Linked DNA regions of Homo sapiens. The protein of the gene in region 3 interacts with the protein of the main gene of each other region in a pairwise test. Each region holds a gene or a part of one and is shown on either strand. Other genes may lie near its edges.

What was found. Proteins that work in one complex are often made in the same cells at the same time.
Region 1: the proteins of ZNF417 (region 3) and LZTS1 interact in binary tests that used the Homo sapiens proteins (3 or more experiments, as listed by UniProt).
Region 2: the proteins of ZNF417 (region 3) and LMO1 interact in binary tests that used the Homo sapiens proteins (3 or more experiments, as listed by UniProt).
Region 4: the proteins of ZNF417 (region 3) and splicing factor U2AF 35 kDa subunit-like protein interact in binary tests that used the Homo sapiens proteins (3 or more experiments, as listed by UniProt).

Annotation. Positions count from the first base shown.
Region 1 is NC_000008.11:20,255,464-20,258,963, reverse strand, and holds part of LZTS1 (leucine zipper putative tumor suppressor 1), read left to right. Parts: intron 1-3,500. UniProt on the Homo sapiens protein: Involved in the regulation of cell growth. May stabilize the active CDC2-cyclin B1 complex and thereby contribute to the regulation of the cell cycle and the prevention of uncontrolled cell proliferation. May act as a tumor suppressor.
Region 2 is NC_000011.10:8,257,379-8,260,878, reverse strand, and holds part of LMO1 (rhombotin-1), read left to right. Parts: intron 1-3,500. UniProt on the Homo sapiens protein: May be involved in gene regulation within neural lineage cells potentially by direct DNA binding or by binding to other transcription factors.
Region 3 is NC_000019.10:57,910,093-57,913,592, reverse strand, and holds part of ZNF417 (zinc finger protein 417), read left to right. Parts: intron 1-1,403; coding exon 1,404-1,533; intron 1,534-3,478; coding exon 3,479-3,500. UniProt on the Homo sapiens protein: May be involved in transcriptional regulation.
Region 4 is NC_000021.9:6,484,123-6,486,685, reverse strand, and holds the end of splicing factor U2AF 35 kDa subunit-like protein, read left to right. Parts: intron 1-230; coding exon 231-364; intron 365-455; coding exon 456-548; intron 549-1,769; coding exon 1,770-1,917; 3' UTR 1,918-2,063; downstream 2,064-2,563. UniProt on the Homo sapiens protein: Plays a critical role in both constitutive and enhancer-dependent splicing by mediating protein-protein interactions and protein-RNA interactions required for accurate 3'-splice site selection. Recruits U2 snRNP to the branch point.

The DNA of each region.
Region 1 (3,500 bases), on a different chromosome or scaffold from region 3:
GGATGAAAACACATTTTGTCAGTGTCAAGTTTATATCAGCAGAGCCACCCTGTGCTCCTAAGTCACACCTCGCAGGAATGGGAGGCAGAAAGGTTGCATTTAGAAGGAAAGGATTAGCTCTGGAAAGTGAGTTTGGACATTGAGGCTCCCCAGATCCATAGGGATGATGGATGTTGGCAAGGACAATGGTCACAATATAAGTAACAGATACCGATAACACTGCCTAGCATTTATTGAGTGCCCACTATGTACTAAGTATTGAGTAAATGTTCCAGAGCTGTTATCTTATGGTGGTATTTCTTAAATTTCTCATAACGATCCTATGAGGTAGGCTGCTTCACTGTATTTCCTCGAGTATACAAAGCCATCAATTCAATAAAAGCTTTTCACATCAAAACATATTAAACTTACACAACGAAGTTTTGTTGTGTCATGCTTTTCCTAACAAAATATAGAACATATTCATAACATAACCTCTTTATTCTTCAGGATGATAACGCAAGTTTGAATCGAAGCCTAGATATTCAGAGTCACAGAGTCTCCATGCACAACTGCTAATTGTAAAAAATATATATATAATAAAATTAAAATTAAAAAACAGAGTCAGAAAGTTTCTGGCTCCCTTTCAGCTGTGCCCATGCAGTTCTCCATGTCCCACCTGGGATTTCTTTAGCCCCTTTAGGATGGATGGTATAATTTAGAGCTCAGCGAAGAACAGAGGCTCCTTCCACATCTCCTGTTTTATTAAACTTGTGGCTTTCCCCTTCTTAATTGGATATCTGTCTTTTGACTAAGAAATACTTCACAGTGCATGACAATCACCAACCTTTCCTAGCTTTGAAAATTGTGTGATCTAAACTTAGAGATTTGCCTGAATCTGCACATGTGCTGGCACTGACATCCCAATTTCTCCTGTCTGGTGACTGACAAGGTTGTTATTGTTTAAGCATTGATTATTAGATGCTATCCTATTACTTTAAAAAAAAAATGTGCCCAGTCCGGTGGCTCACGCCTATAATCCCGGCACTTTGGGAGGCCTAGGCAGGTGGATCACCTGAGGTCAGGAGTTCGAGACCAGCCTGGCCAACATGGGAAAACCCCATCTCTACTAAAAATACAAAGATTAGCCAGCCAGTCATGGTGGTGCTCACCTGTAATCCCAGCTATGTGGGAGACTGAGGTGGGAGAATCATTTGAACCCGCGAGGTGGAGGTTGCAGTGAGCCAAGATCATGCCACTGCACTCCAGCCTGGGCAACAGAGTGAGACTCTATCTCAAAAAAAAAAAAAAAAAAAGTTTAAGGGTGTCTTAGAATTAGTTTGTAACACTGAAGGTTAAAGATATTAAACAGTTTACCTTCCATGTCATAGCTGGCAGGTGATGTAACTAGAATGCACACCAAGTCGGCTGGGTACTTCTCAACATTAAGGCTGTAATGACTTTCTCCTTCTTTCTCTCTTGAATCTTCTCAATGAGGCCTTCCTTCCACCATTCCTCCAAAACTGCTCTTGTCAAGGTTACCAAAGATCTCCACATGGCCAAATGCATTGACTAATTCTCAATTGTTATCTTACTTTCAGCAGCACTTGACAACTTTTTTTTTTGAGACAGGAACTCAGTCTGTTGCCCAGGCTGGAGTGCAGTGGCGTGATCTCAGCTCACTGCAACCTCCGCCTCCTGGGTTCAAGCTATTCTCATGCCTCAGCTTCCTCAGTAGCTGGGACTACAGGTGCGTGCCACCATGCCCAATTTGCCTGGCTAATTTTTTATATTTTTAGTAGAGACGGGGTTCCACCATGTTAGCCAGGCTGGTTTCAAACCCTTGACCTCAAGTGATCTGCCCACCTTGGCCTCCCAAAGTGCTGGGATTACAGGCTTGAGCCATTGCGCCTGGCCATTTGACACCATTTTTAGGAAACAATTTCTTGACTTGGCTTTCTTAGGTCTTCTATATCGACATCACCCTGAAAACCTTCTCTGCTGCTCTTTTTCACTTCTCCTAACCTGCCTGACCTCCAGATGCCGAGTGCTCCATGTTAACCATCCTCAGGCCTCTCTTGTCTTTCTGCATCCGCTCTTTGGTGACCCCATCTAGTCTCATAGCCACTTCCACACTCCCAGCTCTGACAAGTGCATCTGCAGCTCCCAGCAGCTGCCCACTCACCCTCCTGCCTACTCTCCATCACTCCCTGGATGCCAAATAGGCTTTGCAAACTGAATGTCTTCAACCAAACTCCTCTCTTTGGCATTGTCCCTGACTCCTCTCTTTCGCTCACTCCCTACATCTGATCCTTTAGCAAGTCCTGTCAGCTCAACCTCAAAATTACATTGAAAACTGTTTTTTAGAGACAGGGTCTCACTGTGTTGCCCAGGCTGGTCTTGAACTCCTGGCCTCAAGTGATCCTCCTGCCTTGGCCTCCCAAAATGCTGGGATTACAGACGTGAGCCACCACCACATCTAAATCCACAACTACCACCCTAGACTATTAGCCTGTAATTGGCCACCACTTCTATCCCCCGTCTCCTCAATAAGCTTCTTCCCCACCCGGAAGCCAGAGTGACCTTCCCCAACCTAAGGCAGATCAAGGTGTCAGCTGCTTAAAGCCATCCAGGGGCTCCTTGTCTCAACCCAAGCAAAGCCAGAGCTCTTTGAGCTGCACAGCCTCCTTGTTCTCTGATGTCTGCTGGCTCCTGGTTTCTGTTTCTCCTTCCCAGCCTTGCTAATTGTTCTCCAGCCAGGCTGCTTCCCATGTGGGTCTCACACAGCCAAGCCCCCTCTGCCTCAGGGACTCAGGCTTTTATACTTGGGGTTTCTTCTGGTACCCCTCTCCCCCTAGATTTTCATATGACTTGCACCTCATTTTCTTTTCTTCTTCTTCTTTTTTTTTTTTTTTTTTTTTTTTGAGTCAGGCCCAGGCTGGAGTGCAGTGGCACAATTGTGGCTCACTGCAGCCTTGATCCCCGGGGCTCAGACGATTCTCCCACCTCACCCTCCCAAGTAGCTGGGATTACAGGTGTGCACCACTACGCCCGGCTAATTTTTGTATTTTTAGTAGAAATGGGGTTTCTCTAAGTTGCACAGGCTGGTCTCGAACTCCTGGACTCAAGCAATCTGCCCACCTCAGCCTCCCAGAGTGCTGGGATTACAGGTGTGAACCATCATGCCTGGCTGCCCCCTCATTTTCTTGAAGCCTTTTAAAATGCTACCCTAACAAAAGAAGACCTTCCTGCATAAAACAGCCACCTCCCAGAATTCTGTTCTGTCCTCTCTGCTCCAGTTTCCCCCGCAGCACTGGTACCCGCAGCACTGGTACCCGCAGCACTGGTACCACTTGCTATAGTATACATTGGTTTGCTTCTGGCCTCTCCACACCACTGTAACCCTAAGTTCCAGGAATGCAGGGACTGTGACTGTTTTAGTCACTTGCTGGGTCCCGAGTGTTTAGAGTAGAGGCTTGCATGAAGTGGGCTCCCAGTGAATGTTTGTTGAATTATCAGAC
Region 2 (3,500 bases), on a different chromosome or scaffold from region 3:
CCCAAAGGGTGCGTTCCCTGCATACGGCACCTTTTGTCTGGCTGCAGCAGGGACTCAGGGCTGCTATTAACCACCCCCAACGCCTTTTCTCCACCTGACAGCATCTTGTCTGGAGAGGCTGGGGCTCCTCTGGTTGAAGTCGGGTCTGCCAGCTGCCGAGGACCAAAGCTCCCGCTCTGCTGGGCTGCAGGGCTTTCATGTTGCACTTCTGAAAGATAATAAAATATCAATCGTTTTGCCGTAGCAACGGGTTTAAGAGACTTTCTGAAGTATTGAATCGTCAGAAAAAAAAAATTTTTTTTTGCTTTTAAGCACAGTGCATTATTAATAAAGTAATCCATTAGGTCGAGCAGTGAAGGGTCACCACAGAGACGGAAAGATCTGTTTTGCAAACGGTTAAACTTCGGGTTTTAAGATTAATTGCTTTCATTTGGATGCTTGCTCTTGGCCTAGCCATCTCCACTTTACTGGAACTCAGGGTCCGGGCTTTCTACATGCTGCTGGGTCTGCCTGTCAGCGAAATGGAACTGAGCTCCAACTTTCCCGGAGAAACAGCCCTTCTTCCCCTGGCACCTGCGGCTTGGGCTGGCACCAGGTGGTGAGCTTTTTGGGAGGGTTAAAATCCCAAGGGAGCAAGGAGAGCTACAGCTCTGAATGCTACCCAAGTCAAATGAGCCCCTGGGCTGTTCGAGAAGAGGCCTTTGAGTAGGAGCAGACAGCAGAGAGTCTGAGAGGGCCCAAGAACAGTGAGAGCTTTGGTCTGTGGGGGACTGGGCAGGAGAGGAGGCTGGGGCATCCAGCTGGGGATGCTGGGATGCTCTCAGGTGCACACAGGAGAAGGGCAGGGCTGGGTATAAACGGCCTTTGCAAAGGCCCAGCAGGAAGGTGGGGGTGACCACAGGAAGCAGCAGGCGGGTTGTGGAACTAAACACCAGACATGATTCCTAGGGCATTTTTAATAAGTAAAAATGCCCAAGAGAGTGAAGCTGGACTGAGGAGGACCAGACAGCGGAGTCTTCAATTGTTAATGACTGCTAGGAGCACAAATTCCACAGCCGACTCAGTTAATCCACCAGAGCCGGCGCATGGCTATGCTTGGGTACCAACCAGCCCTTGCTGGGCCACCAGTAGGATTTCCTAGGATAGACACTCATGTTCTAGACCACAGAGAATCCCAGGGGCCTCTCCTGGCAGAGTGTGCTCATGACCGTCCCAACCCTGGAGAGGGAGGCAGGCCCTGATGCTGTTCCATGCCAGAGACCCCAGCCCATCAGCAGGAAGGCGGAGCCAAGTGGACACTGCTGCCTGCTGAGGCCTGGTAAAGGCCTTGTGAGTCTGGCAGGGTGGGGACCAAATTGTGCACTTGCCCAGTGCCTAGAAGCAGGGGAGCGGGAGGGTTACCATCTGCATCTACCATGACCAGCCCCAGCGGCAGCCCTCCTTTCTGCTGGGAATGAGGCATCACATCCTGAGCTGCACATACAGCCGCTTCCCCTTCCTGCCCAAACTTAGCCAGGCAGAGTGTCTGTAAAGATGGGTAACCCGCCCCCCAACCCCACACACACACCCGAGCCTTGGGTGAAGAAGCAGGTGCTTCTCTCTGTTCCCTGCTCTTCCATTCATTTGCTCACACAGAGCAGCACTAAGGGGGGACAGGGAAACAACATAAATTGGTCTGTCGTCCGGAATCCATGTCTCGCTAATGTACCCAGATTAACTCAACTGTAAATTGTCTCCTTGGATGGCGGTGTCTTGCTAAAAGTTTCCCATATGATTCATGATTTGGATTGCTTTTAACGGCTATTGGCTAAGCAAGCCAGTGACTGTACAAGGTGATGCAATTGGCATTAGCGAGGGGAGGCACGGGAGCGTGTAATGCAGTCAATACTGCATTAACTACTGATGCCCAATTACAGGGAGCAGGAGAGAGCCTTTCAGGAGCATTAGGACTGGGGGAAGCTGAGATCACTGGCCGCTGCTCGCCTAAAAGCTTCACCCTTTGGATGCCGGGGCTCAGTGCTGGCATGACCACTCACTTGGCCTCTGTGGCTGTGGGAACTGCCTTTTTCTCTTGCTGTCTGTTTCTGAACATGTCCTCAAAGATGCCTTTAGCACATGAAAATGTATGTTTCCCTAGAGCTGGGACCCGCTTCTCATCCCTCCCGAGTAATTGATTCCTTACCCCCACCCTGTGTCACCCTGTGTCTCAGAGTCAGACCAGGCAGCTGCCCCATAAGCTTCCATTTAAGGAACTTCACAGCAGGCTCTATTTGTGGGCAGGACCAAGAGGAGGTCTATTTTGGTCTCTCAACCTTGGAACAGATGGATGATTGCCAGTGAGCACTGGCAGTTGACTCCCTGTGGTCATGGGCAAAGGAAACACGAGGTTCAGCCATGGCCCAGGGCGAAGCTGCCAGAGTTGGGAAGTGGCCATGGCTAGACGGGCTGGGCTGTCTGAGCAGAAGACAGAGCCGTGATGGTGCAGCTAGGGAAGGCTGGGGGTGAGTGCCTTGAGCCACGTTGGGGTCTAGAGCAGATGCAGGCCCAGGGAGTTAGGAGCTCCCTCCAGAGCTGTGCCCCCATATAGCAGGGAGGCCAAGGCTGTTGTTGGATCCATCTCCAGGGTCCAGAGGGCCTCCCAGAAAGCCCTGATCAGGGACATTGAGAAGATTGGAAGATGTTAGGGCAGAAGGTAGAGGTGTCCCAGTGTGCCAGGCACTGTTTGACTTGTTGCCACCTCTATCATTGCACTAAGCTATGTAGGTCCAATATGTCCACTGTGATTTTGTGTTCCATGTCCACCCAGTGTAGAGGTTGCTTTGCTTCCAAACCTTTGCCTCTCTACCTTCTCGTCTCTACAGTGAGAACAGCCATATCTAATTGGCAGGATTGTATTCAGGATTAAGTGAGGTACTGTCCATGTACACATTTGATAAGCCAGAAAGCCTCATGGCTGTGTGGAGCAACATTGCTCCATGCTCAGTTACAGTATGATCTGAAATAACTCTGTGTCCAGTCCAGTGCTTTGTTTGCTGGCAAGCACTGGGCCTGCACCCTCACTCTGCCAGTTTATTTATCATGGTCCTTAATCATTGCTGCCTGGGAGGCAGGCTGACCTCACTACTCGCCCACGTCCAGATCACCAAGACAGGTGGCACCTTGGGAAGAGGTCTCTAGGACCACTCTTTGCAAGTTCCTCCATTTATAGGGGGAAGGTTGAGGTTTAAACAGGGCAAAAGGGCTGCCTAGGGTTCCATGGGGAATTGGAGCCTAGAGCATCAGCATCTTTTTGCCATGCCTTCTGCCCTAGCCCTGAGGCGTGATGAGGCTAGGTGGTAGAAAACTCTGATTACAGCAAACATCAGCTGGACTGGGACCACGGACCACGTGCTTGGGTGTCCCAGTTATGCCCCTTGCCAGCCTACTGACAGCCCAGAAGATGCAGTTCTATCCTCAGATGTAAGGTGAAAGGTGCTGAGGGACACTCACCTGTCCTGGGC
Region 3 (3,500 bases):
ATTCATAAACGTTTTGAGATGACTTTGGGAGTGCCTGGAGAGTTTCATTCAGCTTGGTGCATGTGGGCAGTGAAAAATATGCTCATCTGTGATAGTAGATGTGGTTTGGTTCACAAATCCAGGGGCTGGGCTTTAAACAGCATTAGATGGACAGAGGAGGGTTGCTACAGCTGAGGTCTCAGCTGGTGCAGCACAAAAGTGAAATAGGTCCATGGATATCTGAAGCCATATGTGGTTCTGTGTGGCTATGGAGTCATTCCGGGAGACGTTCACAGGATGATTTGGGATTACCACTGCTATTGTAAACCATGGAAATTCTGTGTTAATATTGGATCCTATTTGTATTTGTCAAGCATAGTCTGGATGCTTATCCACATTTTGGTATAAGGCCAGAATTGAAGGCCCAATATGATGTGTCACTTTGACATCTTGTGAAAGTGGGACAACCTTAAAAGGTGTGAGTACAAATCTCATTCCCACTCTGCTCTCTTGAATAATGTATCCTAGCCTAACAGCCCGTTTTATCAAGGTGATAAGGCAGGGTTCCAGGTTGTTATATTTTGTGGTGGGTTTCAATTCCATCCCTACCAGCAGAGTTATGGAAACAAACCATTGCATATTCCCAAGGGAATCATGGGCCGTTATACCCTCTTCATCTTGTGAAATAATTTTATTTGTGGGGGCTGGGTGCAGTGACCCACCCCTGTAATCTCACTTTTGGAGGCCAAGGCGGATGGATCACTTGAGACCAGGAGCTCAAGACCAGCCTGGCCAACATGGTGAAACCCCCTCTCTACCAAAAAAAAAAATACAAAAATTAGCCGGGTATAGTGGTGCGTGGCTGTAATCCCGGCTACTTGGGAGGCTGAGGCACGAGAATCACTTGAACCCAGGAGGCGGAGGCTGCAAAGAGCCAAGATCATGCCACTGCACTCCAGCCTGGGTGACAGAGCTAGACTATGTCTCAAAAAAAACCCCAAAAAACAAAGTTCTATTTGTGGGGATGCCAGAGAGAGGCTGATGGTAGGGAAAACTCAGGTAGGGGTGGCCATGGGGATGTGTCTTTGCAGTATAAAGAATGATGTATATTTAGAGAGGGAGTTTGTCCAATGGGCTCAGGCAGCTGCCCTGGGCTTTACATGAGCTTGGATATCGCTATTCAGAAGGGGATGGACCTTTTTATGTCAGGACCTCAGCATGGATACCTATTTGTCCACTTACTGCTTATTGCTGATGGCAATTGACCAGTGGGCCCATGAAGAGACAAAGGCACTAGTGGACATAGTTTCAACACTATGTTGGGGACCTTGGGAGGAGGATGGGCAAGTGTGGGTGTGTGGGAGAGGTGGGTTGTGGTACCTCAGCAGAGGGGCTGTTTGTGGTTTCATCTGTCACTATCATAGCAGGGCACTGTGACCTTTGAAGATGTGGCTGTGAACTTTTCCCAGGAGGAGTGGTGTCTTCTTAGTGAGGCTCAGAGGTGCTTGTACCGTGATGTGATGCTAGAGAACCTGGCTCTCATATCCTCGCTGGGTAAGTTGCTCACGCTCACCTTTGTGACCTGAGCTAGTGTTACTGTTCCCCTGTTTTTCATTGACAGGACTGTCTTTCTCACTTAAGGAGCCTGGACACAGGTTCCTTCTACACTTCTCTATGTAAGTTGTGTGTATTGCCTTTTCCTTTCCTTAAGCACCTCCAACACCTGCTTTGCTCCAGGCTCCCAGGGAAGGAGTCAGAGTCAGGAGTCTAATAGGCACCTAAGTGTATCCACTTTGCCTGCTCTCTGGCTGTCAGGTGACTGTCCAAATCGGTAGCTCTTGTGTGCCCAGGTTCTATTAACACTTCCTTCCTCTATCTGACAATGCTTTGTGCCTCCCTGTGCCAAGAATTGCCTTCATTGACATTGTCACTACCTACATAGACCATAGACCATAGACTCTTCTTGCAAGACCCTGCTTAGGAATTCTTTTGTAATACTTACCTTACTCTCCTGTGGGCTGTCAGGTGCTTAGTTGTCCTGAGCTAGTGTTGGCTGTTCATCTCTGCTGTCTCTCCCTTCATAGTTACATCGTCGGGTCCTATGTACTGGGTGTGAGATGGAGAGACCTCCATGTTTGACAAGATGTGGTTCAATTCAGGCTCATCACGATAGGCTCAAAGGGAGCCTGTCCCTCAGGAGTGCCATGCTGGGGGAGGGCATGACTTCAGGGGTTTATCCAAATCATACCAGAAACCATTTATATTTGCCAAGTGTTTTTGTGGCAATATGAGTAGGCACACACTATTTGTCTTTTTCTCCCCATTGTTGAGAGTTTCACACGTGTTAGTTCTGTACCTTTTCACTTCTACTGTGATATCCACCCCAGCACTAATACTCACATCTCACCCATTTTTCTTGTGCTTTCATCTGCACTTGTCTCTGATATTGGTGTATCGATTACATATTAGGAAGTGTATGCCCTATGTTAAACCATCCATGACCACCCTCTGCTGTGTTGTACTCATGTTTTCTTGGTCTTGACATATGCTTCTATATTTATATTTTTTGAGATGGAGTTTCGCTCTTGTTGCCCAAGCTGGAGTGCAATGGCACAATCTTGGCTCATTGCAACCTCTGCTTCCCAGGTTGAAGTGATTTTCCTGCCTCAGCCGCCCAAGTAGCTGGGATTACAGGCCTGCACCACCACACCTAGCTAATTTTTTCTTTTTTTAGTAGACACAGGGTTTCACCGTGTTAGCCAGGCTCGTCTCCAACTACTGAACTCAGGTTATCCACTTGCCTCACCCTTGCAAAGTGCTGGGATTACAGGCATGAGCCACCGCGCCCAGTCCATATGCTTCTACATAGCACTCACATGTCATTAGGAGATAAGGTCCCGTACACAACTTGTGTTTAGAGGAAGGAGCTGTGGACCCTGCCTCTACTCCCTGTGTTGCCTGTATGCTTGTGCTCTTTACATCATGAGGCCTCCTGGATTCTGTGACCTTTATAGCCCAGTAATGCTAGGCAGCTCATTCTTCTTTTTATTATTATTATTATTATTTTGAGATGGAGTCTCGCTCTGTTATCCAGGCTGCAGTGCAGTGGTGCGATCATGGCTCAATGCAAACCTCCACCTCCCGGGTTCAAATGATTCTCCTGCCTCAGCCTCCCGAGTGGCTGGGATTACAGGCGCTCACCACCACATCCAGCTAATTTTTGTATTTTTAGTAGAGATGGGTTTTCACCATGTTGGTCACGCTGGTCTCGAACTTCTGACCTCAGGTGATCCACCCGCCTCAGCCTCCCAAAGTGCTGGGATTACAGGCGTGAGCCACTGCGCCCGGCCAGCAGCCCCATCTTCAACTTGAAGCCAACATTGTGTTCCTGCAAATATTTCTATAGATTAATTCCTCAATTTGTGAGACGTACTTGTGGGTGGGCTGTGCCTTCCCGTCAGAGGTACTTTGCACTTGACCAGCATTTTCTTGCTCTCAGGTTGTTGGTGTGGATCAAAAGA
Region 4 (2,563 bases), on a different chromosome or scaffold from region 3:
TGCTCCTTTAACCAGTTGAATTTGAAAAATGAAGGCAACATTTGGCAAAATCTTGGACTATCTTGAAGTTAATCTCATTGAAAATAAAGGATTTTTCAATTATCCTGTAATACTATTCCACCTTACTATACCTGAGTGTGTATATCTCTCTCTGATACATACTTGGATTGGTAATTGAGAAAGTCTTATTAAAGCGTGGATGGCAAGCACTTCTGTTTTTGTCTTTTCAGTTTCGCCGTGAGGAAGATGCGGAAAAGGCTGTGATTGACTTGAATAACCGTTGGTTTAATGGACAGCCGATCCACGCCGAGCTGTCACCCGTGACGGACTTCAGAGAAGCCTGCTGCCGTCAGTATGAGATGGGGTGAGTGAGGAGTGGCCAGTGACGTGACTGAGCACAGTTCGGGGCCGTGTGCACACGAGGTAGTAAATGTCTCCTTCCAACCCACCCACAGAGAATGCACACGAGGCGGCTTCTGCAACTTCATGCATTTGAAGCCCATTTCCAGAGAGCTGCGGCGGGAGCTGTATGGCCGCCGTCGCAAGAAGTGAGTATTCCTGTGCCCGTTGTTAAGCTCAGTGGCTTCTTTCTCCCCTCACAACCCTCCCCCTTCCAAAAAAAAAATTTTGGCATAGGTGTTGTTTCTGTTTTTTAAAAGGCAGTGCTTAGAACATAGTACATATTTTTAAATATCCAAATGTCCTCTTTGGAGAAGAATATTCACCTGCACACAGGTAACTTCATTATCCAACTTCTCAAGTAGAGATCAGATCTTAGTAATCAAGCAAGAGGGCGGTTAGCTGGGCAGCCGCGGACATGAGGCTCGTGGTGAAAGTGGGCATGCAGTTTATTCTCCCAGATATTACGAAGAAGAAGAATAGATGTTGTAACCTCCTTTAGATCAGGGATGGCTTCCCTGGGACACATTGGAAGAAGAATTGTCTTGGGTCACAAATAAAATACACTAATGATAGCTGATAACTTTTTTTTTAATTGCAAAAAAAATCTCATAATGTTTTAAGCAAGTTGATGAATTTGTGTTGGGCTGCAGGTTGGACAAGCTTTTGCTTTACATATTTCACATGTCCACTGGGGTTTCTTTTGGTTTTGCTTGTTGGTTTTAGGGCATTTCATTATGTCTTGGGATCGCTGGCATCCTCCCTTCGGGACACTGGCAGAATCAGGCCCAGCGGTCACATCTCTCTGATCCTACATTTAAATGTACGACAGGTCACAGAGCAGAGAAAATCAAGACGTCAGAATCGAACCGATTGAGTTCTGAGTCTGGAGAGGTTCTCATCCCTCTTCTGTTAAACATGGACTAGTAAATAGATGGGTGGCGATTGTTTTATTGTCAGCATTCAAGAAGCATAAGAGAAAAACAGGCCTGCTCTCCCCAGCCCAAAAACCTGATGGACACAGTAGCTATGAGCGCCTGAAGCGTGGGGTCAGTGAGGGTTGAAGATGGTATGTGTCCAGCTCATTTTGATTATGATTTCCTGTGACCATTTGAGTTGGTTCTAGAAGAAGACAGAAGATGCAAGGTATTACACCTGTTCACTTCTAAGTTGCACATTTTTTTCTCCTGAAACTTTTCACACCTGAAATCAGGGTGTGTCTCAGTCACGGCGTGCAGTCTCTTCAGCAGTGTTTTTCCTTATCAGTGCCGTTGGCTTGAGGAGCTGCGCGTGTTGAGAGAGTGGGTGTGGTTCTGTGCTGCGTGCCGTGGTTTGGATGGCACGGTTTTCTTTATTTTCCTTGGTTGCAGGCATAGATCAAGATCCCGATCCCGGGAGCGTCGTTCTCGGTCTAGAGACCGTGGTCGTGGCGGTGGCGGTGGCGGTGGTGGAGGTGGCGGCGGACGGGAGCGTGACAGGAGGCGGTCGAGAGATCGTGAAAGATCTGGGCGATTCTGAGCCATGCCATTTTTACCTTATGTCTGCTAGAAAGTGTTGTAGTTGATTGACCAAACCAGTTCATAAGGGGAATTTTTTTTAAAAAACAACAAAAAAAAAAACATACAAAGATGGGTTTCTGAATAAAATTTGTAGTGATAACAGTATTCTTGGTGTAACTTATTTCTTGTGGAAGTTCTTTAAATTTCTTTTTCTTTATAAATCTGCTAGTCATCTTGGAGGTAAAGATTAATATCCATCCACCACTTTGAGTATAAATGAAATAATATTTTTTATCTTAGGGCATGAAATAAAACACATACCAGGTGAGATCTACATGCTAAATAATCCGGAATTTCTCGAGGCTGTCATGGAAAGCCTTTTGGGGTTTCTTTTCTAACTGGTTAGTGAAGAAGTGCTTAGCTATAATCAGTAGACACGCTGTAGACTGCACTGATGTTGGGAAGAAGGCTGATCTGTGGTGAGACACAGTGGGTGGGCCCGACCCATGTTACCTTCTCGTTCCTGCGAGTTTGTGTCAAGAACCCCATGTGTTCGTGGGAGGGAGCGTGGATGCTCACACGGCACACTGAGGGCCAGTAGTCCGTGTCCGTGTTTCCTTATGCCAATGGCTGTGGGAGACACAGAAGCCTGCGGTGCAGATCCG